Linked DNA regions of Homo sapiens. The protein of the gene in region 3 interacts with the protein of the main gene of each other region in a pairwise test. Each region holds a gene or a part of one and is shown on either strand. Other genes may lie near its edges.

The links.
Region 1: the proteins of SAP30BP (region 3) and DHX8 interact in a two-hybrid assay, tested with the Homo sapiens proteins (one large-scale study listed by BioGRID and IntAct).
Region 2: the proteins of SAP30BP (region 3) and THOC1 interact in a two-hybrid assay, tested with the Homo sapiens proteins (one large-scale study listed by BioGRID and IntAct).

What each region holds. Positions count from the first base shown.
Region 1 is NC_000017.11:43,500,968-43,504,620, forward strand, and holds part of DHX8 (ATP-dependent RNA helicase DHX8), read left to right. Parts: intron 1-3,653.
Region 2 is NC_000018.10:247,418-251,070, reverse strand, and holds part of THOC1 (THO complex subunit 1), read left to right. Parts: intron 1-3,113; coding exon 3,114-3,222; intron 3,223-3,653. UniProt on the Homo sapiens protein: Component of the THO subcomplex of the TREX complex which is thought to couple mRNA transcription, processing and nuclear export, and which specifically associates with spliced mRNA and not with unspliced pre-mRNA.
Region 3 is NC_000017.11:75,705,215-75,708,589, reverse strand, and holds the end of SAP30BP (SAP30-binding protein), read right to left. Parts: intron 2,980-3,375; coding exon of another isoform or gene 2,899-2,979; intron 2,583-2,898; coding exon 2,498-2,582; intron 2,251-2,497; coding exon 2,069-2,250; 3' UTR 531-2,068; downstream 1-530. UniProt on the Homo sapiens protein: Plays a role in transcriptional repression by promoting histone deacetylase activity, leading to deacetylation of histone H3.

The DNA.
Region 1 (3,653 bases), about 32 Mb from region 3:
TTCTTTGTGCAGTAAATATTAGCTACTAGATATAGTCATAACAAATACTTATTAATTTAATTTGTGTTTGGCAACTGGGGATACGATTTGAATTAAACAGATATGATCCCTGCTTTTATGCGCTACAACTTAGTCGGGGATATGGATATTAATTAAATAATCACCAAATAATTAAATTATGATCAGTGCCATGTGAAGAAGTACAGGCAGTGTAATTGACTGTGGTGGGTCACTTCCCTGGGGAAATCGAGACCCAAAGGATAAATTGGACTCAGTCTGTCAAGTGGAGATGGGATGGAGGTTGGGGAGTATGTTCCAGCCTGAGGAGTAGCCCGTGTTGGGTTTGTGGGGTGGGAAAGAAGGAACTGAAAGAAGGCTTGTGTGGATGGAATAGAGAGAGCAGTGGGCAGTGGTAGGGGATGAGATAAGAACATCAGGCCAGGGCTTTGTAGGTGGCATTAGGAAGCTGGGCTCAATTCTAATAGCACTGGGAGATGTTGAAAAGTTCTTTTGTTGTTGTTGTTTTTGTTTCTGAGACAGAGTTTTGCTCTTGTTGCCTAGGCTGGAGTGCAACACCATGATCTTGACTCACTGCAACCTCCACCTCCCTGGTTCAAGTGATTCTCCTGCCTCAGACTCCCAGGTAGCTGGGATTACAGGCATGCACCACCACGCCTAGCTAATTTTTTGTATTTTTAGTAGAGACGAGGTTCCTCCATGTTGGTCAGGCTGGTCTCGAACTCGCGACCTCAGGTGATCCCCCCCCCATCTCAGCCTCCCAAAGTGCCGGGATTACAAGTGTGAGCCACCGTGCCCAGCCAGATGTTGAAAGTTTGCAGCTGGCACATGGCATGACCAGAGTTGCATTTCCAAAGGATGATTGAGGGTGCCCTGCAGAATGAGTTGGATGGGGCACATGTGATGATTTAGAAAGCTTTTATGAAGAGAGAGAATGGTGGCTTGAACATGGAGGTAGCAAAGAGGAGGGATGTACTTGAGAAAAGTAATTTGTTGAATGTGGGGCAACAGGAATGGTCAAAGATGACTTCCAGGTTTCTGGTATGAGCACTAGGATGAATGATGGGAACACTGGAGGAGAAATGGGTTTGTGGGGAAAGATGGTCAAATTCCGTTTTGGACTTGTGTCCGAGGCAACTAGAGGACATCTTAGGTTGAGGTATCCAGTGTAGAATTGAGTATAAGAGCTCAGAAGAGAGGTCTGGGCTGGAGACAGAAGTTTGGGAATTGTGTTAATTTAGATATCAGTTTGGCTGCATGTAATAGAGATTCAAATATTAGATTAGGTTCGGCATGATGGCTCACGCCTGTAATCCCAACACTTTGGGAGGCCGAGGCAGGAGAATTGCTTGAGGCCAGGAGTTCAAGACCAGTCTGGGCAACATAGTAAGACCTTATCTGTATTTTATTTTATTTTGTTTTGTTTTGTTATTTTAGTTTAGTTTAGTTTAGTTTTTGAGATGGAGTCTCACTATGTTGCCCCAGCTGGAGTGCAGTGGTGCAGTCTTGGCTCACTGCAACCTCTGCCTCCTGGGTTCAAGCGATTCTCCTGCCTCAGCCTCAAGTAGCTGGGACTACAGGTGACCGCCACCACGCACGAGTAATTATTTTGCATTTTTGGTAGAGACAGCGTTTCACCATGTTGGTCAGGCTGGTCTCGAACTTCTGACCTCAAATGATCTTGCCCACCTTGGCCTCCCAAAGTGCTGGGATTACTGGTGAGCCACCGTGCCTAGCCCTTGTCTCTATTTTAAAATTAAATTTTTAAAAACGACAAAAATAAAAACCAAAATATTAGATTTACAGTAGAAGGTTGGACATATTCGTTCATTGTTTAACAATATCATCTTCCATTTCCTCAGAATAAACCCATTCATTCCCTTTTACCCTTTAGTGAAATGTTCTCCATGACCCTCCTTTGGCCTCTGCCTAAGCTCACTTATTTGGTTAGTAGGCATAAGTATTTTTTCGTAGCCAGCTTTTGGCATCAAATTTGTAAAATGTTTGCATATGCTAGAGAGCCACTAAAATTCTGCTCATTTTTTTTTGCTCCTCAAGCCACAATTCCAAGGTGAATCTTGAAAATATAAGCTAGGTCTGGGCAAGGTGGCTCACACCTGTAATCCCAGCACTTTGGGAGGCTGAGGCAGACAGATCACTTGAGTTGGGGAATTTGAAACCAAGCTGGGCAATGTGGTGAAACCCTGTCTCTAAAAAAATACAAAAATTAGTCCAGGCATGGTGGCTCATGCCTGTAATCCCAGCAGTTTGGGAGGCTGAGGCGGGTGGATCACCTGAGGTCAGGAGTTTGAGACCAGCCTAGCCAACATAGTGAAACCCCATCTGTGCTAAAAACAGAAAAATTAACAGATGTGGTGGCACGCACCTGTAATCCCAGCTGCTAGGGAGGCTGAGGCAAGAGAATCACTTGAACCTGGGAGGCGGAGGTTGCAGTGAGCCGAGATCACGCCATTGCACTCCAGCCTGGACAACAATTGCGAAACTCCATCTAAAAAAAAAAAAAAAAAGTTTAGCCGTGTGTAATCACGTGCACCTGTATTCCCAGCTACTCAGGAGGCTAACGTGGGAGGATTGCTTGAGCCCAGGAGGTGGAGGTTGCTGAGCTGAGATCTCGCCACTGCACTCCAGCCTGCTGGGCGTCTGAGCCAGACCCTGTCTCAGAAAAAGAAAAAAATTAATCTGAGAGAAACCAGGCACAACAGACCACATATTGTATGAAGTATCCAGAATAGAACCCGTAGACATAGAAAGTAGACTAATGGTTGCCAAGGGAAAGGAAAAGGGAGGAATGGGGAGTAACTGCTAATGGGTACAGGGTTTCTTTCTGATATGATGAAAATACTCTAAATAGTGGGGATAGTTGCACAACTTAATGAATATACAGTAAAACACTGAGTTAAACACTTAAAAAGAGTAACACGGAGACCTGGCTTGGTGGCTCATACCTGTAATCCCAGCACTTTGGGAGGCCAAGGAGAGAGGATTCCTTGAACCCAGGAATTTGAGGCTGCAGTGAGCCGTGATTGCGTCACTGCACTCCAGCCTGGGAAACAGAGCAAGACCCTGTCTCAAAAAAATAAAATAAAATAAAAAAAGTGTAACATGGTTTGTGAATTACATCTCGATATAGCAGTTATTTAAAAAGGGGAGAGTGCTGCGCATGGTGGCCATACCTGTAATTCCATTACTTTGGGAGGGTGAGATGGGTGGATTGCTTTAGCCCAGGAGTTCGAGACCAGCCTGGCAACATAGAGTGACCTCTTCTCGCTTGAGCCCAGAAGGTCGGGGCTGCAGTGAGTCAGGATTGCACCACTGCACTCCCACTTGGATGACAGAGCAAGACCCTACCTAAAAAAAAATAATTCCAGTGTCAAGCAGTCAGGTCTTCACTTCTCTCAACTAACCTTTTTTCTGACATCACAGGTGTGTAGCACCACTTGTTACAGTCTCTTTCCCATTCCCTGCTGCCCCTTCTATATTCTTTTCTTCACATTAATTTGTTTCTTTGAGTACTTTTGATCACGGGTCGCTGAATTGAGATGCTGCATGTGCAGTGCCCGCATGCCATTTTATTTTTTTCCTGGTACATCTTGAGGTAGCTTGAGGACAATACT
Region 2 (3,653 bases), on a different chromosome or scaffold from region 3:
GTGTAAAGCACTTAGAATATTGTCTATTCAGTGTCTAGTAGCTATTATTTGTTATCGTTATTATTTTTTTTTAGAGACCTATTTATTCATTATACATGAATAAAGTAGGCTTTAAGGTCTGGCCTGAGCAACATAAGGGCTCTGGGGCAAGTTAGTAGGCTACAAGATGATGAGTCACCTGAAGTGTAAACAGCCCAAAAGACACTGGCCAGTGCAGTTTTGTCTGCTTAGATTTTGCCTAAGACTGTATAGACAATTCATCCCTATTGGTTATGTTTGTAAATCACTTAAATAAGACTCAACACTCAGCTGCCTCTGTCACAGTCACTAATGTTGAATAGAGGGAGAAAATACGTGAGGAATTACTTTGTGACAGCTGTTATCACCAGATGGTCTTAGGCACTGTAATTTACAAAGCAGAACTCATTACCCATCTACCTACAATATGAAGTCCATTTCAGATTTGGCTCAAATACACCAGTAAACATTTTTGTTAAGAAATTTCAATGTATAACATCCTGTAAAATAGCTGAACATTTAAAAAAATATATCAAGTTTTCCAGAGTTTTTTTGGTTAAAATAGTTACAAGACATTCTATTTTACATAGTAACTGGGTCTCTGATTTGTTATTATTTGCAAATACAATAATTGGTTACATTTGCTTTGTGTGGGTAAACAGAAAATTCAAAAGTTTCTGTGGAGTGTTGAAGGTGGAAGGCAAATTGCAAGTGGGTTGAAGAATGAACAGGAAGGTAATGAAGTGGTGACATGGAGTATAGACAACTCTTTGAAGAATTTTATTCAGCTGTGAAGGAAAAGAGCAAGGGACAGCATCTAGGAGAGGGGACTTTAAATTTTTAAAAATATATTAATGCCTCAACTGTAAAAACTGCCTAACAGTAAGATATTAACACTACTTCAAAATTTATTCTGTAAGACACCTCAAATACCCACCAAGCCAATTAAAGATAAAAGGGAAGAGATCAAAAGTCTTTTACAGGTAGGAGATGGTAATTAGCAACATGGAATAATATTGTGATTGGTATTAAGTGTTAAATTAGATGTGAAGTTCTTAGCAATTGAGACAAAAAGGGACATATAATGGTTGCATGAGTCTCATTCTCTGTTAGAGGTAGCCCCATTTTTAAGAGACAAACTTTCCTGGTACATTTCAAGAGGTATTTATTATATTCAATCTTACATGTTGTAACTGAGTAACATTTTGTTACTCAGTGTGTGTGTGCACATGCACTTCAGAAACATTCTTTATCAAATGTATGGAACTATACAAATATTGGTTCTTGTTCTTTCATGAATGTAAATAATTTATATAGTGCTATTTCTTTTCTCTATTTACTTTAACGTTTTAGGGAATGTTCTTTTTGCGGCTTTTTTTTTTTTCTTTTTTGAGACGGAGTCTCGCTCTGTCACCCAGGCTGGAGTGCAGTGCTGTGATCTCGGCTCACTGCAAGCTCTGCCTCCTGGGCTCAAGCGATTCTCCTGCCTCAGCCTCCTGAGTAGCTGGGACTACAAGCACGCACCACAATGCCTGGGTAATTTTTGTACTTTTAGTAGAGATGGGGTTTCAGTATGTTGGTCAGGCTGGTCTTGAACTGACCTCGTGATCCGCCCGCCTCAGCCTCCCAAAGTGTTGGGATTACAGGTGTGAGCCACCGTGCCCAGCCTGTGGCTTTTTTTAAAAACCCAATTCATAGAAAACCCAGAGGTATAATCTTACTGTTGTAAATCAGTGAAGCTGCTTTAATTATAGAGAGAAGTTAATGTGTACATCATTGTTTTCCTACTTTCAGAGTTGTTACTAGGGAAAAGTTTAGGAAGAGCGAAAGTAAACATGCCCATTAGAGTCTTTCAGATACTACTAATTCATGATGAAAGCTTTGGCAAGAACTAGATTTAGATTTTTGTTAGTTAAAAGTCAGTATTCTTCACTGTTGATTTTCACGTGCTTCAGATACTAGCCGTTTATCAGATATTAGCTGTTTTAAAAATTAAAAGAATAGGCCGGGTGCAGTGGTACACGCCTGTAATCCCAGCACTTTGGGAGGCTGAGGTGGGCAGATCATGAAGTCAGGAACTCGAGACCATCCTGGATAACACGGTGAAATGCTGTCTCTACTAAAAATACAAAAAATTAGCCGGGCATGGTGGCGGGTGCCTGTAGTCCCAGCTACTCAGGAGGCTGAGGCAGGAGAATCGCTTGAACCCGGGAGGCGGAGCTTGCAGTGAGCTGAGATCGCACCACTGCCCTCCAGTCTGGGCAACAGAGTGAGACTCCTTTAAAAAAAAAAATTTAAATTAAAAGAATATGTATTGACACTGTAGATTTGTGACATATCAAGATTAGAAGTTGAATTAGTAGTGCCATAATAAAGTTACTAGATAAAGGGCTTATTTTTGTGATGCTAACTTGATATGTACCATATATGTTTTTCTCATACTGGTGCTTCTTAGGATATAATATTTTTAGTTAGGATATGATACCTGTGACTTTTAACATAGATTCAGATTAACATTGGTTTAAACAACATAAAAGTTGATTTTTCCCCCTCATATCGAAGTCTAGAAGCAGGCAGTCCAAGGCTGGTAAGGGAGCACTGCTCGGTGAGATTGCCTAGACCCAGGCTTCTTCTACCTTCTTCTTCCATCATCTTGGTGTTTGCCCTTTTTCCTGTAGTGCAAGGTGGCTCACGCTCACATCTGCATTCTAGCCAGCAGGAAGAGGAAAAGGCCAGTGATAAAATATGGCCCAAAAGTTGCACATATGACTTCCGCTCTCAACTGATTGGCCAGAATTTAATCACATGACCATGCGAGCAGCAAGATTGGTTGGGAAACATAATCTTTAATTCTGAATAACCATGTGTCCTTCCAAAATTCAGGGGCTCCACCAGTGTAGATAAAGAGTCTATTGGGGTCTATGAGTTCCCTAAAATGATTTGTAAAAGTTTATATAAGCATTTGTGAATGTGTACTTTTCTGATAACTTTCATTAGCTTCTGAAAACGGTTTGTGACCAAAGCTAAGTTAAGAATATTTAGATATTTGTAAAAGAATTTGAATGATTTATTTAATATAACGTTTATTTTATTAGCTCTATTCCAATTGATTACAACCTGTATCGAAAATTCTGGTCACTTCAGGATTACTTCAGGAACCCTGTGCAATGCTATGAGAAGATTTCATGGAAAACTTTTCTCAAGGTAAGTTGCCATTGACAGACTATCAGAAGCCCAGTATTTTATAGACAGTGATAGAGCTAAAACTTAATCTTGTCTAACATACTTTTCACTATGTAATTCTGCCTCTTACATTTTTATACCAATTTCATAACAAGTGAAATTATAAATTAATATTTAAACCACTAATATTGTGAAGTAGTATATAAGAATCGGATATTTAAAAGTTCGTCATTACAGCCTTGCTTTTTTTGAATATAATGAGTGTTGTTAACATAAATTGATATTTTGCAGAATATATTCTATCTTTGTACAAAATTATTTTAGCTATCTTGTTGAAACAGAAGTCCTCAAGTCATGGCTCTGGGCCAGATCTAACCTACTGCTTATAAACAAAGGTTTATTGGAATAGTACCATGACCATCCACTTACCTGTGGCTGTTTTTGCACTATAA
Region 3 (3,375 bases):
TAGCAGGTGTGTGGGTGGGGGACAGTAGGAGCCGTGGACAGAGTTCAGTTTGGACACTGTTCTCTGGCGAGCAGACACACACTGGTTAGAAACAACTTTGGCCCCTAGTGCCTGGGCCATCCACCCACAACAGGAACTGTTCACACACCTCTGGGCCATCCTTGATGTGACTAAGGTGGGCAAGCACCATTTTATAGAAGAGTAAATGAAAGTCTAGAAGGATTAAAAACCTTGACCCAACTCACGAGGCTGGTAAGTGGGGCAGCAGTTTTGGCCTGGGGTTGCCCAACTTCTAAGCCTATGTTCATTCTCCAGGCCCCCTACCTCTGCGGCCCCGCAGGAGACAGTCATTACTGCTTTAACTGGACAGATGAATGGCAGCGCCAGGGCTGCCCAGAGGAAAGCGGGGAGGGGAAAGACCTGCCAAACCCTACCCCGCCGACAGAGCACGAGACGGGGGACAGGCCAGGAGTTTGCTTCTCTCCTTGGTCTACAACAAAAAAAAATTGGATTTAGCCAACAAAAAACACTGGCAGGAACTTTACAGTTTATAAAGCTTTTGCATAAGTCACCTCTGGTTCTTCCCAACCATCTTACGACGCTTTATTACTGTGATTTCAGAGAAGAAACAGGCTTACAGAGGTTAAGGGCTTGAGACCACTCAACTGGTTTTAAGTGGAATCCAGACCAGAGGTGCCGGCTCCACGTCTACTGCCCTTTCCACGGTGCCATGCTGCCTCCCACAAAACATCCACAGTGCCCTTGGCCAATGAGGGGCCGCCATCGGAGGTCACAGGAAGCCTTTTCACAGTCCCTCTGGGGCATGAGTGGGGAGCAGCTCTTCTCCCCAGAGCTTTAAAGCCCCATCGAGGAAGGGGTGAGAACTGACCTCCTGAAGTGCCCGAGTGTGTGTGTACGGGGAGAGTGGACTCAATTTTTATTTTTGAAACCTCATGCACAGAGTTCCTTATATTCCCCAGGTCCCACAAGAGTACCAGGTGCCATTTCAGAACCACCTTTCTAAACCTCTGCCCACCCACTGAAAGCAACACGGCCCTTCACAGCCTGGCTTCCTTCTTTTGACACACAGCCCTTCCGCTCCAGTGGAGAATCGCCAAAGATCATGAAGGGTAAATAGTCTCCTCTGAACCCCTGGTCTGGGAAACCCGTTTCAACCCCGGGGGGAGCCCAGTGGCCACTGGTGCTGCCCAGGGGCTGCTGTGGGGCAGAGATAACACACAGAGGAAGGGTGGGGTGGCAGGAGCCCTCCCAGGAGCAGGGCTTGCCTGTAAACAATGAGCTGCCGCCTCGCCAAGGCAGGAGGTGATTCATCTCCCCCGCTGCTCAGCTCCTGCTGGCTGCGCTCACCGGGCACCAAAGGACTGGGGCAGCCCTGGCCAGGCGCTGACGCCTCCCCACTCTCTGCACAGGTCAGGATCTCACCCCAGCCCTTCTGGAAACTGGCTTGACTTCAAAAGCCTTCCTGGGTGTGTCCAAAAAGTGATCTGGTCTGGGGAGTGCTCAAGTGCACTCAAGGGAGCACAGCTCCACCATCACCCGAGAACTGGCTGGGTTTTGGGATCAAGGCGGCAGATGGGGCATACGTGGGGCTCGGGGACTCCCGCCTGTCCATGCCCAGAGGCATACACGGATAACAACGGTGACTTCTTGGGTCACCCCTCTGAACAGCGTCCCAGGCCTCCATCACCCTGTTGTCAACCCTGAGGCAATAGTCCCAACCAAGACTATTGAGTCTTGGGGGACATGTGAGCTGAAGCATTTGCCTGCAAACAGAATGCAGGAGAGGCCAGTGCATCTGAGATGCCAAGAGGTAAGAATACGGCACTTTTAATAGGCGGCAGACCCCAGGTGGTGCGTGGACAGACCCTGTCCACAGCGCCTGGCTCCCGTGCTGCCTGTCCTTCCATCTGGAATGCCAAACAGAAGCTCCTCTCAGGTGGCATCTGGGGAGTAGGTCCCAGTCCTGAAATATACAAAGTGGCGCCTCCCACTGGGCAGTGGTCACTGGGCTGCACGGTCCTTTCAAGTCCTAGGGTGGCCCCTCAGGTCACTGCTTGGCCTTCTTCACAATGGTGCCCACAGCAGAGATGACGGTGGTCTTGGAGCCGCTGGCGCTGGTGGTGACCGTGACAACAGCTGGCAGGGTGGCTGTGGTGGTGAGGATGGTGGGCTGGGCTATCGTTGTCACTGGGATAGCCGAATCCCACTTGCTCTTTCTCTTCTGAGCATCTGGAGATAAAGCAGAAATCAGGATCACGATCCACCAATGAGCGGTGCCCTCTTTCCCTTCCCCCTGCAGGCCAGCGGGAGTCTAGGGAGCAGACCCCGAAGTGGCCCACCCCAGACTCCAAAGGTGCTTCTCAAAGTAGCAAGGCTGAGCCCAGGCCCAGATCCACGTGCTGTCTGTCGCCCAAACAAGCCAGGGAGACCCTGGCTCCATGTGTGTGGCAGGAGGCAGGGCAGCTCTGCAATCTACCTGCAACAGCTGTGCTGGCAGTGGTAGTGGTGGTGGACGTGGCGTTGGTCGTGGTGCCTTTTTTGGTGCCCGTCACAAACTCAATCTGGAGAGGGAGAGGGAAGAGAATAAGACCAGGCAAAGCTGGGTGTCCACAGCTTTTTGCCATCCGTCAGCTCCTGGGGGACAGGAGCTTGGCACTACACAAAAGAGGCATTGGAAATGAACTCTGCTCTGCCCATCTGGGGTAGGGCGAGATGTCTAAGAAGAACCCAAAGGGGCTTTTCACTCTTAAAAGAACTTTCCAAACAGTACTGTATCCCTCCCGGCATCACCAGGTCTCTGCACATGCCCGGCACCCCCCGCCCACCGCCCCACCTCACATGCCCAGAACCGTTTGGCCAGGCCCCTCCTCCTCACACCCAGGAGGAGGCGGTGCCCGCCCGCACAGGGGAAGGACAGCTCCGGTCCCCAGGCGCTGCAGACACGTCCCTGCAACAAGCCTGGGGTTTGGAAGGGAGAGGGAAAGAGAGAGAAGGGAGATTCAATCAAGGGTTAAGAATGAGAAACCCCAACTATCCCCTTGCACCAGCTCCCACGTTCCTGGCCCAGCAGCCAGCACCTCCAGAGGGCCACCAGCATGCCCAGGCCCCACAGCCCCTCTGCTTGGGGTGAGGGAAGCGGTCTGGAGGCCGCAGCTGCTTGAGGATGGTCAGGCCGAGCCAGAAGTGGGAGGAGCTGGTGTCCTGATGCCCGGCTCTGAGACTGGTCACAAAGGGAACAAGGCCCAGAGATAACAGTTTGGTCTCCCAGCCAAACTGATGCTCCCTGAAGAACCCAGACCACACTGCCAGGGAACAAGTGGTGCTCAGGGCCCTAACGTGGGACCTAATAGGTAG